3 linked regions of the Homo sapiens genome follow. The protein of the gene in region 1 interacts with the protein of each later gene in a pairwise test. Each region holds a gene or a part of one and is shown on either strand. Other genes may lie near its edges.

Region 1 (6,402 bases):
TGGCTTCATCCACAGAGCAAATCTCAGAACAGCCAATTCTCCTTGGCCACATGCGTATCCTGGACCAATTCCCTTGACCAAGGAGGTGAGGTGCCTCCATTTGCAGGGCAGGCTCATGGACCCACCCCTGCGTGTGTGTGAGTGGGTGGTGGGGGCAGTCAGTCATTGTGACTGACAGCCCCGCTAGGACCGTATGAAATGAAATGGTGAAGGGCAACTCCCCAAAGGAAGGGATGCCAGGCAGACGGCGAGCAGAATGGATATACTCTACAGACCTTTCCGTTGTGACATTCCTTATATCTCCAAACTTTCACCCCAGCAACCAAGCACTTTTCAGTGTCAGCAGCATCCCTAAGCCTACATTTTAAGCAGTAGAGAAATATAATAATTTTTATTTGTATGGCATTTTAATATTGACAAAGCACTTTTGAACATGTTGCCCATCTGACCATCCATATCGTGTGCCGGAGGGATTCTTATTTTCCCCATGTTACAGATGAGGATACTGAGAGTCAGAGTGATTCAGTTGATAGCAAAATGTCATCCTCGCAAGAACGTGAACTTTGGAAACAAACCTGGACACTGATTTTGACAAACTACTTAACTTCTCTCCAAACCATGGTTTCCTCATCTCTAAAATATGGATAATAATAGCACCTGTCTCACAAGGTTGTGGTAAAGATGAAATAAAACAATGTATGAAGGACCAGTCTCAGCATAGACATACAATAAATGTTAGGCACCCTGTAATTGACTTATTGAGCTCACATAGCATGCAGATAGCTGACTCCAAATCCAGGTCTTTTCCTACCACACCAAACTAATTCCTTCAAAGGTACCTCCTCCCCAGGAGATTAGTATAAAAGTAACTATCATAGCTTTAACTGGGGTGGGTCTTCCAGCGTGCTGGGCACTGGTATCATGATATCCAATTTCCTGACCACGGCGGCAGACTCAGGTCTGGACATGTGCTCCAAGCAGGCCAGCTAGAGTTTTCCCTGAGATTTGCCTATGGATCCTGAGGGACAGAGTCTCTGCTGTTGACTTCCCCAAATAGATAAAGCTTACCAGGAAGTTCTACCATGTACTGGGGCTGCCTTTGGCCATCTGTTCTGCTGTGTGTTGAGTCTCTGCAGAGAAGGAAGCCACCACACCAAGGAAGGCAGTGTTGGGAGAGTCCCAGCGCATGTAACTCAAACAAAGCTTGTCACCCTGGGGCCAATTCAGGATAACATCCAACCACCCGCCATCACCACACATACAAATTCACCTCCAGAAAAGTCTTTCAAGAGTAAAGTCAGCTTTTCCCAAAGTCTCTCAAAAAAGGTAAAGAAGAGGAAAGCACATTATATAATACATGGTAGGACCTCCTGGTAAGCTTTTTTATCTATTTGTCTCCCGCCAAAAACCCCAAGTCAAAATGACTTGGAGGCTGCGTGGTGGCTCATGCCTGTAATTTCAGCAGTTTGGGAGGCCAAGGCAAGAGTACTGGGAGGCCAGGAGTTTGAGACCAGACTGGGCAACATAGGGAGACACCATTTCTACAAAAAATTTTAAAATTAACTAAGTGTGGTGGTGTGTGCCTGAAGTCCCAGCTACTCAGGAGGCTGAGGCAGGAAGATTACTCAAGCCCAAGAGTTTGAGGTTACAGTGAGCTATGATCGCGCCACTGCACTCCAGCCTGCGTAACAGCGTGAGACTCTATCTTTAAAAAAAAAAAAAAAAAGATTCTGTCTCTATTCCTCTTCTCTTGGCCCCTTTTCCCACCTTTTGTTTATTTTCATTTTTTCAAGAAATAGCTTTGTGACTTTTCTGAGTTTTATTTTTTCCCATTCTTTTTGTTTATTTTTAATTATATGAGTAATATACAAATACAGTCTCATTGTAATATATTCAAACAATACACATAAAGCAAAAGTCCTCCTTACTTACTACCCCTTCTCATCCTTCCCTCACCCTCCAGAGGTAACCACTATTAATTGGTTAGGTATGTATCTTTCCTGGCCTTTTTCTATATATTTACATATGTATTTAATAATACCAGGCATTGTCAGGCACTTAACATAAGCACTCTGTTCCTGAAAATCAAGTGTTCAGTAACAAAATGCAATTTGGAAACCTATTTCCGAATTATGTAAAATAGGAAAAATTCAGATGCATTACAGATTAACTCAAAACTCTAAAACACAGTGAAATGCCTACATACAAATGTATAAGAAACAAAGTAACTTGTTAGGATGTAAAATGCCTAAAACTTTACTTCCTTGACCCAGTTCATATGGTTCTAACAACCTTGTGTCGAGTGAACTCAAGTCATTATCCATATAGGTTTTGCTTAAAATGTTGTATTGAGTTGAGGGGACATAAACTAAATTGATTTTATGCAATCAGTAGCCAAAAATGTTGGATTGAGAGAAATGTGCATTTTATGAAACATTGGAGTATGAAACATCAAAAAGCCTTCTAAAGGAAAACACAACTGGGGGAATTGTTCTGCAGGGAATGCCAGCTAGTATTTAGGAATGTTTGCTATAGGCCAAGCACTCTTCTATGCGTTTAAATGGGTGTAGAAATATTTAGCACTGTGGGCCAGGTGTGGTGGCTCACGCCTGTAATCCCAGCACTTTGGGAGGCCGAGGTGGGCAGATCACGAGGTCAGGAGTTTAAGACCATCCTGGCTAACACGGTGAAACCCCATCTCTACTAAATATACAAAAAATTAGCCGGGCGTGGTGGCAGGTGCCTGTAGTCCCAGCTACTCAGGAGGCTGAGGCAGAAGAATGGTGTGAACCTGGGAGGCGGAGCTTGCAGTGAGCGGAGATCGCGCCACTGTGCTCCAGCCTGGGCGACAGAGCAAGATTCCGTCTCAAAAAAAAAAAAAAAAAATTGGCATTGTGGATTCCATTCCTTTTGTTTTTCTAATTTTTATTTTTTAGAGACAAGGTCTTACTCTGTTGCCCAGGCTGGAATGCAGTGACACAATCATAGCTCACTGTAACCTGGAACTCGTGGGCTCAAGGGATCCTGTCACCTCAGCCTCCCAAGTAGATGGGGCTAAAGGCATATGCCACCATGCCTGACTAATTTTTGTATTTTTTGTAGAGACTGTCTGGCTACATTGCCCAGGCTGGTCTCAAACTCCTGGCCTCAAGCAATCCTCCAGTCCCAGCTTCCCAAAGTGCTGGGATTATAGACGCGAGCCACCTTGCCCGGCCTGCCTTCCTTTTAACACAAAGGGTCTGGCCACCTGCTCTTTCCTCTTAGTGTATGTTAGAGAAGGTTTCATAGAGCACACGTAACTCTACTTTTTTTTTTAACTCCTGCATAGAAATCCACAGTATAGATGGACCGTAATGTTTTTTATCATTTGCCTTTGGATGGGCATTTAGTTGTTCCTATTTTTTGCTATTATAAGCAATGCTGCAATAAAATCCTTGTACACGTGGGCAGGGCTTATATGCACTAGGCAGGGATTTTACTAAGATCAACGTGTTGAAATCAAGAGGCTTTTTCCAGTTCTCTTCTCAACCCATTACCAGCGCAGCCCATGGAAGGATTGAGCTGGCAGACAGACCAGACCCTTCCTTAGAAGGCAGGAAAAGGAAAGGGTGTGAACTGTTACAAGTTATTCTTTTTGCCCTGATCCACAGTGATTCTTGAAGGTAAGTATCATCATTTCCATTTTCCAGAGAGCTAGCATTAGGATTTACACCCACTTCTATATGTCTGCAAAGCCTTCTTGTTCTTTCTATTACCCAAGCACTCCTTCTCCAAGATTGGAAGACCAAGCCGCACCGCACCCCTCTGCCTAGGTCTGTGAGGACCCTCCATAACACCAGCTGCTCTGTCTTCCAGGTCCACCTGGCCGGACAGGTAACCGGGGAAAGCCAGGACCAAAGGGCAAAGCCGGGGCCATTGGGCGGGCTGGCCCCCGTGGCCCCAAGGGGGTCAACGGTACCCCCGGGAAGCATGGCACACCAGGCAAGAAGGGGCCCAAGGGCAAGAAGGGGGAGCCAGGCCTCCCAGGCCCCTGCAGCTGTGGCAGTGGCCATACCAAGTCAGCTTTCTCGGTGGCAGTGACCAAGAGCTACCCACGGGAGCGGCTGCCCATCAAGTTTGACAAGATTCTGATGAACGAGGGTGGCCACTACAATGCTTCCAGCGGCAAGTTCGTCTGCGGCGTGCCTGGGATCTACTACTTCACCTACGACATCACGCTGGCCAACAAGCACCTGGCCATCGGCCTGGTGCACAACGGCCAGTACCGCATCCGGACCTTTGATGCCAACACCGGCAACCACGATGTGGCCTCAGGCTCCACCATCCTGGCTCTCAAGCAGGGTGACGAAGTTTGGCTGCAGATCTTCTACTCAGAGCAGAACGGGCTCTTCTATGACCCTTACTGGACAGACAGCCTCTTTACGGGCTTCCTAATCTATGCCGACCAGGATGACCCCAACGAGGTATAGACATGCCACGGCGGTCCTCCAGGCAGGGAACAAGCTTCTGGACTTGGGCTTACAGAGCAAGACCCCACAACTGTAGGCTGGGGGTGGGGGGTCGAGTGAGCGGTTCTAGCCTCAGGCTCACCTCCTCTGCCTCTTTTTTTCCCCTTCATTAAATCCAAACCTTTTTATTCATCCAACCATCTATTTATTCACTTCTTTTTAAAGTATCTACTGTGTAACAGGCACTATGCTATTCTCTGAAAGATGCAGCAGTGGACAAGACAGAGTATCTGTCCTCATGCAGCTTACATTCTAGCAGGAGATACAATTTACAAATATACAAGCAAATAATATAATATTATGCCAGGATAGAAATGAACATGCCATGGTTGACAGTAATAGGAATAACAGGAGACAGGGAAGAGGTGGAAATTTGTTTCTTTTTTTAAGTTTGCGTTTTTAGGTTTACTTACATACAGTGACTCTCCAGATTTTAAGTTGACAACTCAGTGAATAATTTTTGCTTATGTGCACACTCTGAAACCTCCATGTAGATCAAAGAACAAGCTATTTCCAACTTCTCACCTCCCTTCCCCAAAAGCTCTCTTAAGACCCCTCTAAGTCAGTACCTGGAAAATTTCCATTTTTGAGCTGAGTTCCAAAGAAGGAAATAGAGCAACACAAAGGCCTCGAAAAGAGGTCTCCAGCAAAAGGCTCTGCAAGTGCAAAGACCTTGACAGGAAAGAGGGAGGGGCCAAGGTAAGAACTGAGAAGGGAGGCATGAGGCGTGAGGCTGGAAGATAATACAGAATGTCCCAGGCCATGGCAGAGCTCGTTCCATTCACGAAGGCTTATCAGAATACAAAGTGACACTGATAGGCGGATCATCTTGAATCTGCTCATTGCATGAGTCAAGTCGGCCACAGACTTGAGCGCTTTATTATTAGTTAATCTTTTGCAGGCCCGCTTCTCAATGAATGAGATACACCAGGATATGCACGTGCATCTGAGAACCGCTGCTCTGAGATGGCAGGAATGGATCCCACGCAAATGAATCGCACCCCAAGCACAGGTGTTGCCAGTATGCAGGGATCTGGGGGCTTAAGAAGCTGCAGTAAAAGTGCCAGGTGCTGGCGGGATGTGGTAGCTCATGCCTATAATCCCAGGACTTTGGGAAGCTGAGGTGGACGGATCATTTGAGGTCAGGAGTTCAAGACCAGCCTGACCAACATGGCAAAACATCGTCTAAAAAAATACAAAAATTAGACAGGCGTGGTGTTGGGTGCCTGTAATCCCAGCTACTGGGGAGGCTGAGGCGGGAGAATCGCTTGAACCCAGGAGGTGGAGGTTGCAGTTAGCTGAGATCCTGCCACTGCACTCCAGCCTGGGCAACAGAGTGAGACTATCTCAAAAAAAAACAAAAAAAAAAAAAAAACAAAAACAAAAACGCAGGTACTGAGAGACCCATGAAACGATTTGCTGGAGATAATTTTCAGTTGGAGCTGCAGCTCCCTAGCAGCTTTCTCTGGCTGCCCGCCTAGTGAGATCCTCAGGGACAAGGATAGCTGCACGGGATAGTTCCAGAAGGAGTGGCCATCTCCATAAATAAAATCGGGTTTATTTAAAATAACTCCATTGTCTCTGGGCCATAAATGGTTTGGGATTGGGGTGGGTCTGAAACATTCAGGAAAGGCTTTCTGGCCCAATCAGATTGACGTGTGGGTTGGGGTCCCCTGCAGCACCCCTGTGGGAAGGGGTCAGCTTTGGTCAGTGAACAGTTCTTTTTACCTTTTCTTTTTCTTACAAAAATAAATTTTAGGAGAGCCTTTCGCTTCTTCCTCTTCCTTCCCTCAGGGATATAGGCATTTGAAGGCATTTGACTTAACCCTTTGTAGCCCAGGTAATAAATCCAAACTCAGCAAGATGGGCTGGACCCCAGAGCTCTGTGGTTGCC
Region 2 (7,029 bases), on another chromosome or scaffold:
TAACCCATAAGAAAGATTATATTTTATGAGAATGAGAGAAAAAGCTTATTTTCAAGCCGTATCATCTAGTATTTTACCTCTGCAGTCAACAGCATATTGTTGACTAATTCCATGTAAGCTTTCATTTCTGCTTTTTGGACTTCCTCCAGCCCATCACTAAGAGAATGGCCCTAAAGGGAATTTAAAAAAATTTAAAAGAACATCATATTAAATATACAAAAACTTTCAGTTATCTCACTAACAAATAACGTAACATGCAACTATACAATGAATTAAACGTCCAAAATGCCCCCTAAAAATTATTTTATATAAAAGCATAAATAATACTCTGCTATCACTACAAAATATTAGTATGTACTTACTTGTCATTATACAAATGTATCTTTCAATAGAGAAAATTACACTATCAACTACTTCACAAAAGAAGAAAACAGAATGGTCAGCAAACCTTGTTTAAGAGATTAACCTTATTTAGAAATAAAGGAAATGCCAAAAGACTGACATGTGCTGTTTATAAAGTGGTCAAAGATGAAAAAAATACGTTTGTAAAGATATGGGGGGAGAAACCCACTTATTTTAAAATTCTAATACTCTATAGTTACTAGGAGATACATAAAATGATATAACCTTTAGTTCAATCTGGCAATCTATTACAAGATTTAAAAAGTACATAACCTATGACATCCTAATACCACTCTCAGGAATTTATCCTAAGGTACCAATACCAACCTTAGGAATTTATACAAAGATGTATATATAAGAAAATTTATCTTAGTACTCTATAAAAACAAAAAATTGGCCATGACCTAAAAGCCCAACAATAAACTTGAGTAAATAAAATTCTAATTTATCCAATACAGGGGGAGGGTGTTGAAGAAAAAAAAAATAATATATATATATATTTTGGAGATATATATATATCTCCAATACAGCAGAATACAACAATGTGAAAGGATGATATATACCTACAGCTATTAATATGGAAGAATTTCCAAACATATTTATGATTTTAAAAGGTATGTTGCAAAATAATACACACTAGTATGATCTAGGTTTTTCTATATATTCAAAAAGTCTGGAATGATTTTTCAGAAACACTAATGGGAGTTGTTCCTTAATAACTATTAAAATCTAAACTGAATAAATGAAAAGCAGAATCATTCAAATGGATAAATACATTCAACTTCAAACAAATCCTGTATCTCCCTTTTCAAAGGTCAGCCAGACACTTCAAAACCTAATAGTTTTTCATTTATGACCACAGTTGTAGTAAGCATAAGTTAGAAAATTATCTACCATTTTGTAAAGATCAAACCATCTCTTTAGACTAGATATTAAAATTACATACCTTTAATAAATTTGACATTAATAGAGGAAAAAAAGCTACCTCTTTTGCCATTATATCATGAAAAAATACTAACTTACACTTCAGAAATATTTTCCAGTAGTTTGCATTGGCATTTTATAAAACTAGGTTGAAATCAATGTAAATGTTAAGACACATTAAAGAATGATGAATGACTTGGTAACTGATCAAATACATTTAATATCTTTTTATTACCTTGGCTTTAACAAATTGGACTATTGGACCAAGTTCTGATACTACTTGATTTCCCACATGAATAAAAGGTACTTTACCTGTTGAGAGAAAAAAAAAGTATTTATAAAAATACTTCCAGTATGTTAAAGTTTGTGATAATTAAAAAAAATTAACACAAAACTCAGGTATTTATAAATAGGGATTTCATAAAACTGTAACTTTTGAAAATTTTTGTCAGATGTGTATATTAAATTCTGTAAGTTTTTAAACTGATTACTAACCAACTTTAGAAAAAAAGAACAGGTAAATTCATTTCTAGAGTTCTCACTTAGATATAATAACAGATCACATAACATTCTCTTTTCAGAGCCAACACAAACATATCACCATATAGCAGCAAACACTAATTATCCAAATTACATGAACCAAGCCAGGACACTGGTACATGACCACTGATATATTTCAAAGAAATGTAAGCTTTCTTTTCAGAGTACAGTGAATCAATCTATATTGTAAACTACATTTAAAAAACCTTTTTACATCTTTTAAGTCTTTGATACCCATTGAGATCAACATTTTAAGCAAGTAATTGTATATCAATAAATCTCTTTAACTCAAAATAGCAAGAATTAAAAGAATTAACAATCTTTGAAGGCATGCTAGTTGGTGAGTTGTAATACAGAGTATGTTCCCAACATGTGGGAAAAAATAATAGTATGTTTATAAAAACTAGCTTCTATAGATAAATGTCACATTAAAAAAGAAATATTTCACTTTAACAAATACTAATACTTGGAATTATTAGAGATGAGAGAACAAAATAATCTCCAAATAGCAAGAAGGGTCTACTCCAAATGCTAAAGAATGAAACCTGCTGTCACACCTAGTTCAAATAGAGTTCACACTAACAGCAGGCTTCTTCCTGTTCCTTTTCAATAGATTCACTCCTCTCTGGCTCCGTCAGCCTGGGGGTAATGGATGAAGTACAGAGGCCTAACAAAAGCTTCAACTGCATCCATAGGACAACATGCATTACAAAGAAAAGGCAGGCCTTTTGGAACACAACAACTCAATAGATGTATTGAGAAGATATTTCCCTGTTGCCAATTCTGCATTCCTTCCTTCTACTGCTTTATAAATCTTGCAAAAAAAAATTTTTTTATCTGGTTAAGCATTAGGCCACATTGTTTTCTTAACTCGGGATAAAATCTTTGTAACTACTATACTACCAGAATTATTACAGGTCCCCTGAGATCAAATGATCTGAGAATGAAAACTATTTAGTACCTAGACAAACAGTATTTGGGGGTATAATATTTTTAGAGCAAAGCATATTCCTTGTTTTTAATGACCAGTTTCAGGTTCTTGGAAAAAAGGGTTTGTATTTTTTTTCTTTTCTTAAAAATACATTGAGCGTTGTCAATTCTGAAGCAAAAAGAAGTGTGGATAGTCAACTGAGTATTAATCTTATATATCTCTAAATATAAAGAGATATATAAAAACAAACACAACAAATTAGAAGTGAATAATGTTTTCTGTCACTAGCCTGCTTAATGAAAATGGAGCCAATGTTATATCCTTATTATTGCAGGTATCAGGCAAAAACACAGTAAGACAGTTATTTTCTGGTGCGAATCAAAGGTCATATAAGAAAACTGAGGGCTTTGTTTACCGTCTTAGACAGAATAATCACTTTTAAAATTTTTATTCTAAAGAAAGCAAGAATATGTTGCCAAACAAGTTGGCAGATTCAAAGAATGCAAGAAATAGGACCTTGGATGTCATCTAATCCGGCTACCTTATATTACAGATGAAGTCACTGAGGCTCAGAGAAGTGAAATTTCTCAAGGAAATAGTTAATATGTGACAAAGTCACAGAAGGATTAGTTAAAGATTTCCTAACTCTTTAGGAAATAAGAGTTTAAGTCAACTGGTCTTCTGACTAGTCCATGCTCTCTGCTTTAAAAATCTACCGCAAGATCAAAGAAGCAAATACAATAAAAAACATTTCCCTATCACCTCAAATCATTAAATGAAAGAGAATACCAATCTGAGATATGATAAAGTTTAAATATCTTAGTAGAAAGTGCCATTTTCATCTACCTATAGGAGACTCCTATGAAAGAATGTATATTTTTGTATGTCTCTAGAATATTTATGTTTGTCTTTCGCGCAATCTAATAAAAAGAAAATAGGTATCTACCTAAATGACACTAAGTATAGTAATTTTAGGAAACAGGTAGATAAACTATATTGATATCTCACTTGCCAAAGATCTGAACTTTAGCATTAGATTACTAACCTTCTAACCTTTTTACATAAATATACAAACTGTTTGTATGACTACATAGAGGAAAAGGATGGACAAAACACAACATAACTTATTTCACCAGAACTCTGTAGTTCCTAAAATCTACGTATAAAACCAACACAAAAATGAGTCAATGAATGCCCTCCAAGAATCTAAAATATGTTTACATTTACAAGCCTAGAAATTATTTTATGGAAATGTTTTCTAAATGTATATTCATAAACCTCTAAAACCAGGTATTTATATAAAAGAACATTATGTACAGAAGGGGTGTCTTCATACCTTTTAACAATTTCTACCACCCTTAAAAACTTAAGGTGGAAAAAAAAAATTTAACACAAGTCACTCCTAAATTATCATATCAAAATGAAAAATGTCTCCCTAAAAAGCAATGTTACACACTTATACCAATCAGTTATACTTAATAATTTATTCAAAAAGGAGTAATTCTACGTATTATTGCTCCAACAAAACCATAATTACAATAATCATCCATGATAATTATATATAACATTTATTTATCAGCTTTGTAGCACATTTTTATATTAAAAATTTTGAATTATTTATTTAAAACAGTAATTTAATCTACTGACATAAAGATAATACTGATTTTAAAAAATAGGAAGCTAAAGCATCTCAAAACCTGTTAAAATTAAGCATTAGAAAAAATAATTAGAAACCAAAAACATTCAGTGATGACTTCAAGATCTAACGACAAATTAATTTTTCTACAATCTCTCTTCTTCCAGCTGTATTATGGGAGAATATAATTAAGAAAGATGTGTGGAATAATAAATGGATTCATTATTACTAAAATTTGTTTTCTCAACAGGAAAGTCTTATGTACATTAAGACTAGGGAAATCTGAGATCATGTATTTCCTTAACATTTACTATTTAAAACAATTCCCTTACTATTAAAACCATTTCCACACGTCAGTAACCATCTCTGATCACAGTTGAAATGAATAGATATGCCAACCCCAAGATTGTCAAATTTGCAATTGTTACTTTCTAAAACCATGGAAAGATTCTTCAAAGGGTAAACAAAAAAAATCAGGCATTTTAACATGTAGATACAAACTGGACTATCACTATAATTTTATCACTCCATAATATTAACAGAGAAGAAAAAAAAACACACTTACCAGATGGAGACATATATTCTGCATTTGCCCTACAAACTACTTTGATAGGCAAGTTACACATTTGCAAAAAGGCCTGTAAATCAAGATACATACAATAAGCCCAGTAAAAAGCATATGCATATTTGAACAGAAATTTGTATGCATTTCTTTTCTAAACTGAATAGTTTCATACTACAAAACTCTAATAGAAAACAATGAACCAATTTAAAGTGAAGGATTTGTTTTCCAAACAAAAATGTCATGTCACTACTTAAAAATCAGTATGATTTAGACATCAGTAAATACATGAAACTTAAAGTATGTATGTATACCTAAGGAATAAAATGTAAATTATCCACATTTATGTTACTGTATTAGTTTATGTAAACCAGCAATACTATATATATAGCTTTAATTTTCTTAAGTAGATGACTAAAGTCCAAATTTTATAAGCTATTAATTGCTTCATTCCACTATTTTCTATAGGATCATCATCTTCCTCATTTTAGAGGAAAACTCAAAATACTATCTCTGCTACCTCAAAGTTCTCTCCAGTAATACCCTATATTCCAACATGTAGTTTCTGTGCTCACGAATTCACTTTTTAAAGACTTAAATTGTTTATCTTTGCTCATAGTTACAAAAATGTTATAAGCAATTTAAATGTCTAATAATAAGGGTATGGGGTAAATCATTATAGTAAATCCAAACTATGGAATGCTATACACAATCAATTTTAAAACTCATGCTTTAGAAAAAATTTTACATCAAGAAAAAATGTACACATTATAATATTAAGTAAAAAAATGCAAAACTCTATTACTAGATCACACTAATTCATTTTTAAATGTTTTTAAGACACCAGTGAACTCTGCCAAACCCACTGTTTTTTACAATACTCAAAGTCCACTCCCCTTGTTCTCTCTTCTATGACTTCTTGGCTTCTTTTTCTCTATTCACAAAATTTACTATGTTATTTCTATAAAATAATTCAGTTATTCAATTGGGGAGGTCATAAGTTACAATGGTTCTAATTACCACATACAAATTGGAAGACAAACCTTTTGTCTATTTTGAAATTGAAAGTACTATAAATAGCTGTCAAAAGTAAGATAAGATAAATTAATAAATTAACAAGGATATTATTTATCATTTTACTCAACAGAGATTTCTCATAGGTTTATTATAATTCCTTCCTCAACTCTACATTAGAAATAAGTGTTAAGACTCTTAAGTGTTAAGGGTACAAAACAGTGATTAATATCTTGTACAAAGAACTCCATTTACCCAAAAGTATGTCAATTCTCTTCTGTTTTCTCAAAACTCCAGTCCTTTAGAGATGCCTGCCTCCAAAAATAAATCCCACGTGAGTCTGATTCCCCCACTAATTGCATCCTCTGATTCTTACATTGCTCTGTAACTTATGTATGCATGTCTGATCTCCTCAAGTAAATGGCATCTCTTAGAAAAGCAAGGGGGAGATTTTTAATTTTTTTTTTCAATTCTGTTCTCCTTCCCCCAATCTCCCTCATTTTCCCACAATTCATCTTTCATAGTGCACTACTTATAATAAGCAATATTGTTTACTGATTGAGCCATTCAAAGCTCCCAAGAGCTTATCCTGGTAGAGGCTGTTATCCCTGCCACATATGTTCTCTCCTTTCCCTACAGTGGTAGAAACTATCTGCACACAAGGCTGCCTAAAATAAAAACTTATTTTCCGGGCTCCCTTACAACTGGGTATGGCCAACTGGACTAAAAGTTCTGGACAACTGCTGGGAAGTTTCTTTAAAAGGAGAAAGTATCTCCTCTTTTTCCTCCCTGTTGACTAGAATGTAAAAAGGATGGCTATAGCTATAGCAGCCAAACAGAACCATGAAGTAGCAGCTGAGTGTTAGAAATGGTAGAGCAACAAGAGTAAAGGGGCCCAGGTTCTTGATAATCATGTAGTCACCAAACCTGGATTACCCGTGTTTGTCCGAGAAGTGAACTACCTTTTTAAGCTACCACTATATTGGGTTTCTGTCACTCACTGCCAAATCCAATCTTAAT
Region 3 (7,029 bases), on another chromosome or scaffold:
GTGTCCTGGAGAAACCCATCAGCCCAGCCTAGAGGCCTGGAGCAGCCAGGCACCTTCCAGGGTGGCCAGGGAAGTTGGGGCAAACTCCAGGGCACCATCACTCCTGAGCAGTCCCCGGAGGAGCTTTGAGGGCCGAGGACCACTCCCTGAACTGACTCTGGCCCCTGGCTGCAGCCCCACCTTCCTGGTATCACTCTTCCCTCCTTGCCCCAAGCTCCAGGGACAGGCGGGTCCCCTGGGCTCACAGGAGGAAGTGCTCCATCCCAGCAGGCACATTAGCAACGACCATGCCATCCAAATTCCCAACCAACCTAGAAGATGCCCTCTGAAGAGGTGGGCAGGGCCAAGCCAGGAGGCAGATTCGGGCAGCGAGTGACCATGGGTGGCTTCCCCAGGGACACTGTGAAGTTGGGAACAACAGCCATTATTTGTGGAGTGCAAGCCCTGCTAAAAGCTTTAAGGCATCATCTCGCTGAAACCTCACAACCCCATGGGACCGGATTCACCATCCCCACGAGGAGCGGACAGCCTCAGGAGAGCGGCAGCAGGTGCCCTGCTAGGCTGGAGGGTGGAACACACATTTCCCATCAGCCCAAAGGCAACGCCAGGCACCAGGCAGCCTTGTTTTCTGTGTGTGTGTGTTTTGAAACTGTGACCTGGCTGCCTGGAATGCTCTTTGCTGCTTACAGCTCCCCCACATCCCGTCTCCCGCTGGGGCCATGCTTAACTCACCCGAGGGCTGCACTCCAGACTTCGCAGAGCAGCTTCTTGGGCATTAGCTTATCGTTTAATCCCCAGCACAACCCAGGGAGTATTTCCTCTTTATTTTTTTGAGATGGAGTCTCACTCTATCGCCCAGGCTGGAGTGCAGTGGTGCGATCTCGGCTCACTGCAAGCTCTGCCTCCCGGGTTCACACCATTCTCCTGCCTCAGCCTCCCGAGTAGCTGGGACTACAGGCGCCCGCCACCACGCCTGGCTAATTTTTTTGTATTTTTAGCAGAGACGGGGTTTCACCGTGTTAGCCAGGATGGTCTCGATCTCCTGACCTCGTGATCTGCCCACCTCGGCCTCCCAAAGTGCTGGGATTACAGGCGTGAGCCACTGCGCCCAGCCTGTATTTTCTCTTCTTAAGGTCGTGTTTCTTTATTGCTCAAAAGCAAAGCAAACCTGGTGCTGTGGCTGCTCTTGACAAAGCCGGCAAGAAGAGCAGAATGGGAGGGCCGCACAGCCGCCCTCACCTCACAGCCAATGCAGAGGAGGGCACTCGAGGCACAGCCCTGTCACCACTGCTGCCACCCACCATCGTGAGACTTGCACTTCTGCAGTGGGGCTGAGTCTCCACAGAGCTGCTGTAGGTGGACAAGGTGGCAGCGTACATCCTGACAGTTCCCCTTGGACACTGGGGCCATCTGGGCAGCTTCTTCTCTCAGGATGGCAGCAAGAGAGGCATGGCCAGCACCCCAGGACCCCAACATCTGGGATCCTTTGATCTCAACCCCTCCAGGTTCAGGGCCACCAGCATGCTTGCCTCCCTGCCCCTAAACATTGTACCCACGGGAATATGGGTATGCCCGATTCTATAAGTGGGGAGACAGTGGCTCAGAGAGGCCACAACATGCCCAGCATCACAAAGCTGCACAGAGGAGCCAGGATACAGCACGGGTGTCCCTGACTGCATCCCGCTCTTCCCTGGGCATGGCAGGCGCCAGGCAGGTGGCGGGCGGGGGTGGCCCTCAGGAGACCAAGAAGCTGCAGAGGGGAGGGGGTGCCCCAAACCACATGGTTTTGCCCCTACCGTGGCGTACACATGCAGCCCCGCCCCCACCCCGCACTACCGTCATTGTTGGTGTCCATCTGCCTGAAGATCTTGTCTGTGCGCTTCTCCGGGGTGGACTCATCCTCCGGCATCTTCATCACAGACGACACCATCTTGTAGATGGCCTGCGGATGGGGGCAATGACACTGTGCTCAGAGGCCCGGGGGCTTGGGCGGGTGCAGCAAGGGTGGGCTTCCGCCCAGCCCACAACAAGGCTCGGAGAGGTCAGGGGCTCCCGGTGGCCTTCGGGACCCTTCCCCAGTGGGGAGAATGTTCCCTAGTGAACCTCACGGGTGTCTATGTGAAGTTCAAGAGCAGAGCTGGCAGAAGGGTTCTACTGGGAGGGTGGTGAGGGTGCTGGTATCTCTGCCTGGGGGTGGGTAGTGCCAGGAAGGTGCCTAAGTGTCCCTGTCGGGGGCTGGGAATGCTGAGGGAGAGTGGTGGTCACAGATGTGTGAAATTCCCCACACTGCCTGCTGAGCTGTGTGCATTTTACTCCATGGCTGTTACCCCTCAGTTTAAAAGAGACTGAGTCCCTGAAACTCACAGGGCAAGCCCCATCACCAGCCCCGACAGGACAGGAAGCAGCAGCACTGGGGTCTCCATGGCCTGTTTAGGGCACTGTCAGCCGAGGGCTCAGTCTAGCCACTGGTCTCTCTGCGTGTCTCTGCCTGAGTGGCCCAGCCTGGGGCATGTGACTCTGTGCTGCTGGTGGGTGTACAGAGGAGACGGTGATGGGACTGGTGAGTGGCCACTGAGCAGAGTGACATGCGTGGGGAGTGGTGGCACTGCTGTGGGATTTTCTGAGCACTCCACGTGAAGGTGGCTTGATATTCTCATTCCTGACAACAGACCATTTTCTCATTGTGAGAAAGAGGTAGCAACCAAGTGTCCCATGAGAAACACCACCCAGCCGGCCAGGGAGCCATCGATGGCGTCGGGGGAAGGCTTTCAGGGTTTGGGGACTTGGTTTGGGGGCTGTCCCGTTTGGACAGAAGTGGCTGCTCCTCACTGCTTGGAACAGTTCTACCAGTGCCTTGATGTTCTGACCAAGCCTCTGCACGGCCAGTGACAGGCACACCTATTTGCAAAGGGTAAGGGTTAACACACAGGACAGGACGGGTGATTCCTGGGGAATAGAATTCTTACTTCCGCCACTGCATGAAGCTAAGAGCCAGAAAGTGACGACAGTACCAGAGTTCCCCGAGCCCATGTTAATTTACTCTGACAGTGTGAAAACCATCTACGTGGGAAATGGGTCGCTCATTCCTGAGGCGGGCCACTGCTGCTGCAGAAGTTCACGGATTTGATACCCGCTACTGGAGGCCCACCCCTGAAGTTCCCTACCATGGGACCACCCCTTCTGAAGAGTTCCATTTTTTTCTTATTTTGCTTTTGGTCTTTTTGGAGGCAGGGTCTCACTCTGTCACCCAGGCTGGAATGCAGCAGTGCAATCACAGCTCACTGTCACCTTGAACTCCTGGGCTCAAGCAATCCTCCCATCTCAGCCTCCCAAGTAGCTGGGACTACAGGTGCATGCCACTATGCCCTGCTACTCTTTTAATTTTTTATAGAGATGGAGTCTCACTATATTGCCCAGGCTGGTCTCAAACTCCCGGGCTCACGCGATCCTCCAGCCTCGGCCACCCAAAGTGTTGGGATTACAGGCCTGGCCATGAGTTCTAGAATTGGATGCTCCTGGGCTCAGGGAGGCACTCAGGGGAATGCCAGGGAGGGGCAGCTCTGCTCTCTACTCTCTCTCGCATACCTAGGCACCTGGCCAAGTGAACAAAACTTGGTTTCCTTCTGAAACATGGCCTTTCTGCTAGAGCTGTTGATAGGCATGAAGGTGAAGAGATGCCTCCTAAAGTGACGTCTTTCCCGTGCTGAGCTGATTCTCGTGATCGTTAATGCTTCAGTTTTACTTGATGACTGCGCATTCCTGGGGACATCACAAGCTATCTGTTGAGTTCTCAAATCCAGGGCTTTCCCCAGGTCTTGGCAGGTACCTCTTGCAAGTGCCAAGGAGCCCAGCAATCATACAATTCTTGGCCAGGCACGGTGGCCCATGCCTGTAATCCTAGCACTTTGGGAGGCTGAAGGCAGATCAACTGAGGTGAGGAGTTTAAGACTAGCCTGGCCAACATGGTGAAACCTCGTCTCTACTAAAAATACAAAAATTAGCTGGCTGCGGTGGCACATACCTGTAATCCCAGCTACATGGGAGGCTGAGACAGGAGAATCTCTTGAACCCAGGAGGTGGAGGTTGCAGTGAGCCGAGATCATGCCACTGCACTCCAGCCTGGGCGACAAAGTGAGACTCCATCTCCAAATATATATAAAATATAATTTTTAGAAATTCATCTATTTGAGTCTCAGACTTTGTAAAATGCAGAGAATGACCCACGTTGTTGGGTTATGAAGATGAAAACGGATCAAAGTGCTCCACCCGGCCCTGATGTATAGCAAGTGATCAATAAACATTGGCTTTTACCATTGCCCTTTGCAAGGGTCTGCCCAATCAGGTGACAACTGCTCACTTTCCAAAGTGCACCAGGTAGCAACCTGGCCAAGAAAGACCCAATGTCGAGTGAACATAAAGAACACAGGGAGGCCAGGCACGGTGGCTCACACCTGTCATTCTAGCACTCTGGGAGGCTGAGGCGGGCAGATCGCTTGAGCCTAGGAGTTCAAGACCAGCCTGGATAATGTGGCAAAACCCTCTCTCTACCATCAAAAATACCAAAAAAATTAACAGGGCATGGAGGTGCTCAAGAGGCTGAAGCGGAAAAATCACCTGAGCCCAGGAGGCAGAGGTTGCAGTGAGCTGAGATAGTGCCACTGCACTCCAGTCACTAGAGCAAGATTCCTGTCTTAAAAAAAAAAAAAAAAAAAAAAGCCCTGGGCTGGGGGCTGGGAGCTGGGAGGGGACCTGGGCCCGCGGTGAGACCCGGGGCCTCGGGCGCCGGTACCTGCACGATCTCCAGCATCTCGCTGCGGCTGATGTAGCCGTTGCCGTCCAGGTCGTACATGCTGAAGGCCCACTTGAGCTTCTGCTCCAGCTTGCCCCGCGAGGTCACGCTCAGCGCAATGATGAACTCCCGGAAGTCGATGGTGCCGTCGCCGTTGGTGTCGAAGGTGCGGAAGACGTGCTCGGCGAACTTGGAAGCGTCGCCGTAGGGGAAGAAGTTGGCGTAGATCTTCTTGAACTCGTCCACGGTCAGGTGGCCGGTGGGGCAGTCCTTGAGGAAGCCCTTGTACCACTCCTGCAGCTCGTGGTCGGTGAACTCCGTGTTCTCCCGCAGGTCCTGCAGCACCTCGGGCCGCAGCTTGCTGTTCTGTTTGCCCATGGCGGCTGGCGGCGGCGACTACACCTGCAAGACAGGGGGTCAGCCGGGGACGCCACCCACGGCCACGGAGCAGGGCTGAGCCATGTGCCGGAGAGACCAAATAAGCCCATCGCTGTGCAAGCGCTGCGACTCAGCAACTCCCGGGTCCCCCATCGGAAGGCATGCCGCTATCTTATGGACCACCAAGAAGGCCAAGAGACTCTAATTATATCACGACAGCTCACCCTCACACTGCGGGACACGTTCTCACTTGGAGAATGTGGAAATGCGGGGGGGAAAATGCAACTTAAAATCAGTGGAACAGGGCATCATCCGGTGCCCACCAGGGGTTGTACGAGAGGCGAAGATTAAAATCAGTTCTTACTTTCATCCCCCTCATCAGCTCCTGGCAAAGTGGCCACCTCAGCCACATCCCAGACTCTTTGGGGCAGTTCTTCCCTCTTTCAGGCATCACATTATGTTTTTATCTTTAGAAGAGGCGTCTAGAAACTTTCAGGGAGTCACCCCCACCCACCTTCTTTATTTGTTTATTTGTTTGTTTCTTTTGAGATGGAGTTTTGCTCTTGTCGCCCAGGCTGCAGTGCAGTAGCAGGATCACAGCTCACTGTAACCTCCGCCTCCCAGGTTCAAGCAATTCTCCTGCCTCAGCCTCCTGAGTAGCTGGGATTACAGGCATGCACCACCGCGCCCAGCTAATTTTTTGTATTTTTAGTAGAGACAGGGTTTCACCATGTTGGCCAGGCTGGTCTCGAACTCCAGACCTCAGGTGATCCACCTGCCTCGGCCTCCCAAGGTGCTGGGATTACAGGTGTGAGCCACTGTCCCCGGCCCACCCTCTTTATTTTGCCTTTGATAAACTGCCCCGGGTGGGAGGAGGATCTGGAATTAGCTCTAGGCAGTAAATGATGTTCTGAATGGAACCAGGGAAAAATGAGGCACCTGTGGGAACGAGGAACTGCTCTGCTCAAAACCATCCCCCAGGGCGGTTCTCCACAAGTCCTGAATGCAAGACTGATCAACCGGCATTCACACGGCTGCCACTGCACCACCTCATGTTATTTTCTTACATTAACAGTTAACTGATATACAGGGCGTGATAATTTTTGAAGTACATGGAAGAATGAGAAATAAAAAGATGTCTCCTACCCTAGCCACAGTGGCAACCACTTTGAACTCTGTGTTTGTGAATTCTAAACAGTAGGCACCAGCTCTCCATTATGAAAGGTAAGACAGACCACCCACACTGCCCACCACTTCCTTTCTTCTCTGCCTCTATCCCAGGGTTGTTTTTTTTTTTTTTTTTTTTTTTTTGAGATGGAGTCTCACTGTGTTGCCCTTCCAGGCACTTATGAGGAGTGTGCAGTGGTGTGATCTCGGCTCACTGCAACCTCCACCTCCTGGGTTCAAGCAATCCTCCCAACTCAGCCTCCTGAGTAGCTAGGATTATAGGCATGCACCACCACACCTGGCTATTTATTTATTTATTTATTTATGTATTTTTAGTAGAGACAGGGTTTCACACTATGTTGGCCAGGTTGGTCTCAAACTCCTGACCTCAAGTGATTCGCCTGCCTTGGCCTCTCAAAGTGTTAGGAGTATAGGCATAAGCCACCACGCCCAGCCCATCCCAGGTTTTATAGTACATACATGTTTTTGTTTTTACTTATCCTCTCTATATCAATCAATCAATCTATCTATCTATTTTTTATTTATTTATTTTTTGAGACAGGCTCTCACTCTGTCACCCAGGCTGCAGTGTGTGATCATGACTCACTGAAGCCTTGACCTCCGGTGCTCAAGTGATCCTCCCACCTCAGTCTCCTGAGTAGCTGAGACTATGGGCACACACCACCACACCCAGT

Evidence for each region. The genes of interacting proteins can lie anywhere in the genome.
Region 2: the proteins of C1QTNF2 (region 1) and MTX2 interact in binary tests that used the Homo sapiens proteins (3 or more experiments, as listed by UniProt).
Region 3: the proteins of C1QTNF2 (region 1) and HPCAL1 interact in binary tests that used the Homo sapiens proteins (3 or more experiments, as listed by UniProt).

What each region holds. Positions count from the first base shown.
Region 1 is NC_000005.10:160,347,235-160,353,636, reverse strand, and holds the end of C1QTNF2 (complement C1q tumor necrosis factor-related protein 2 isoform 1 precursor), read left to right. Parts: intron 1-3,760; coding exon of another isoform or gene 3,761-3,855; coding exon 3,856-4,469; 3' UTR 4,470-5,883; downstream 5,884-6,402. UniProt on the Homo sapiens protein: Involved in the regulation of lipid metabolism in adipose tissue and liver.
Region 2 is NC_000002.12:176,321,434-176,328,462, reverse strand, and holds part of MTX2 (metaxin-2), read right to left. Parts: intron 5,072-7,029; coding exon 4,999-5,071; intron 1,639-4,998; coding exon 1,562-1,638; intron 171-1,561; coding exon 78-170; intron 1-77. UniProt on the Homo sapiens protein: Involved in transport of proteins into the mitochondrion.
Region 3 is NC_000002.12:10,417,896-10,424,924, reverse strand, and holds part of HPCAL1 (hippocalcin-like protein 1), read right to left. Parts: exon of another isoform or gene 6,460-7,029; intron 5,192-6,459; 5' UTR 5,168-5,191; coding exon 4,790-5,167; intron 1,943-4,789; coding exon 1,837-1,942; intron 401-1,836; coding exon of another isoform or gene 312-400; exon of another isoform or gene 1-311. UniProt on the Homo sapiens protein: May be involved in the calcium-dependent regulation of rhodopsin phosphorylation.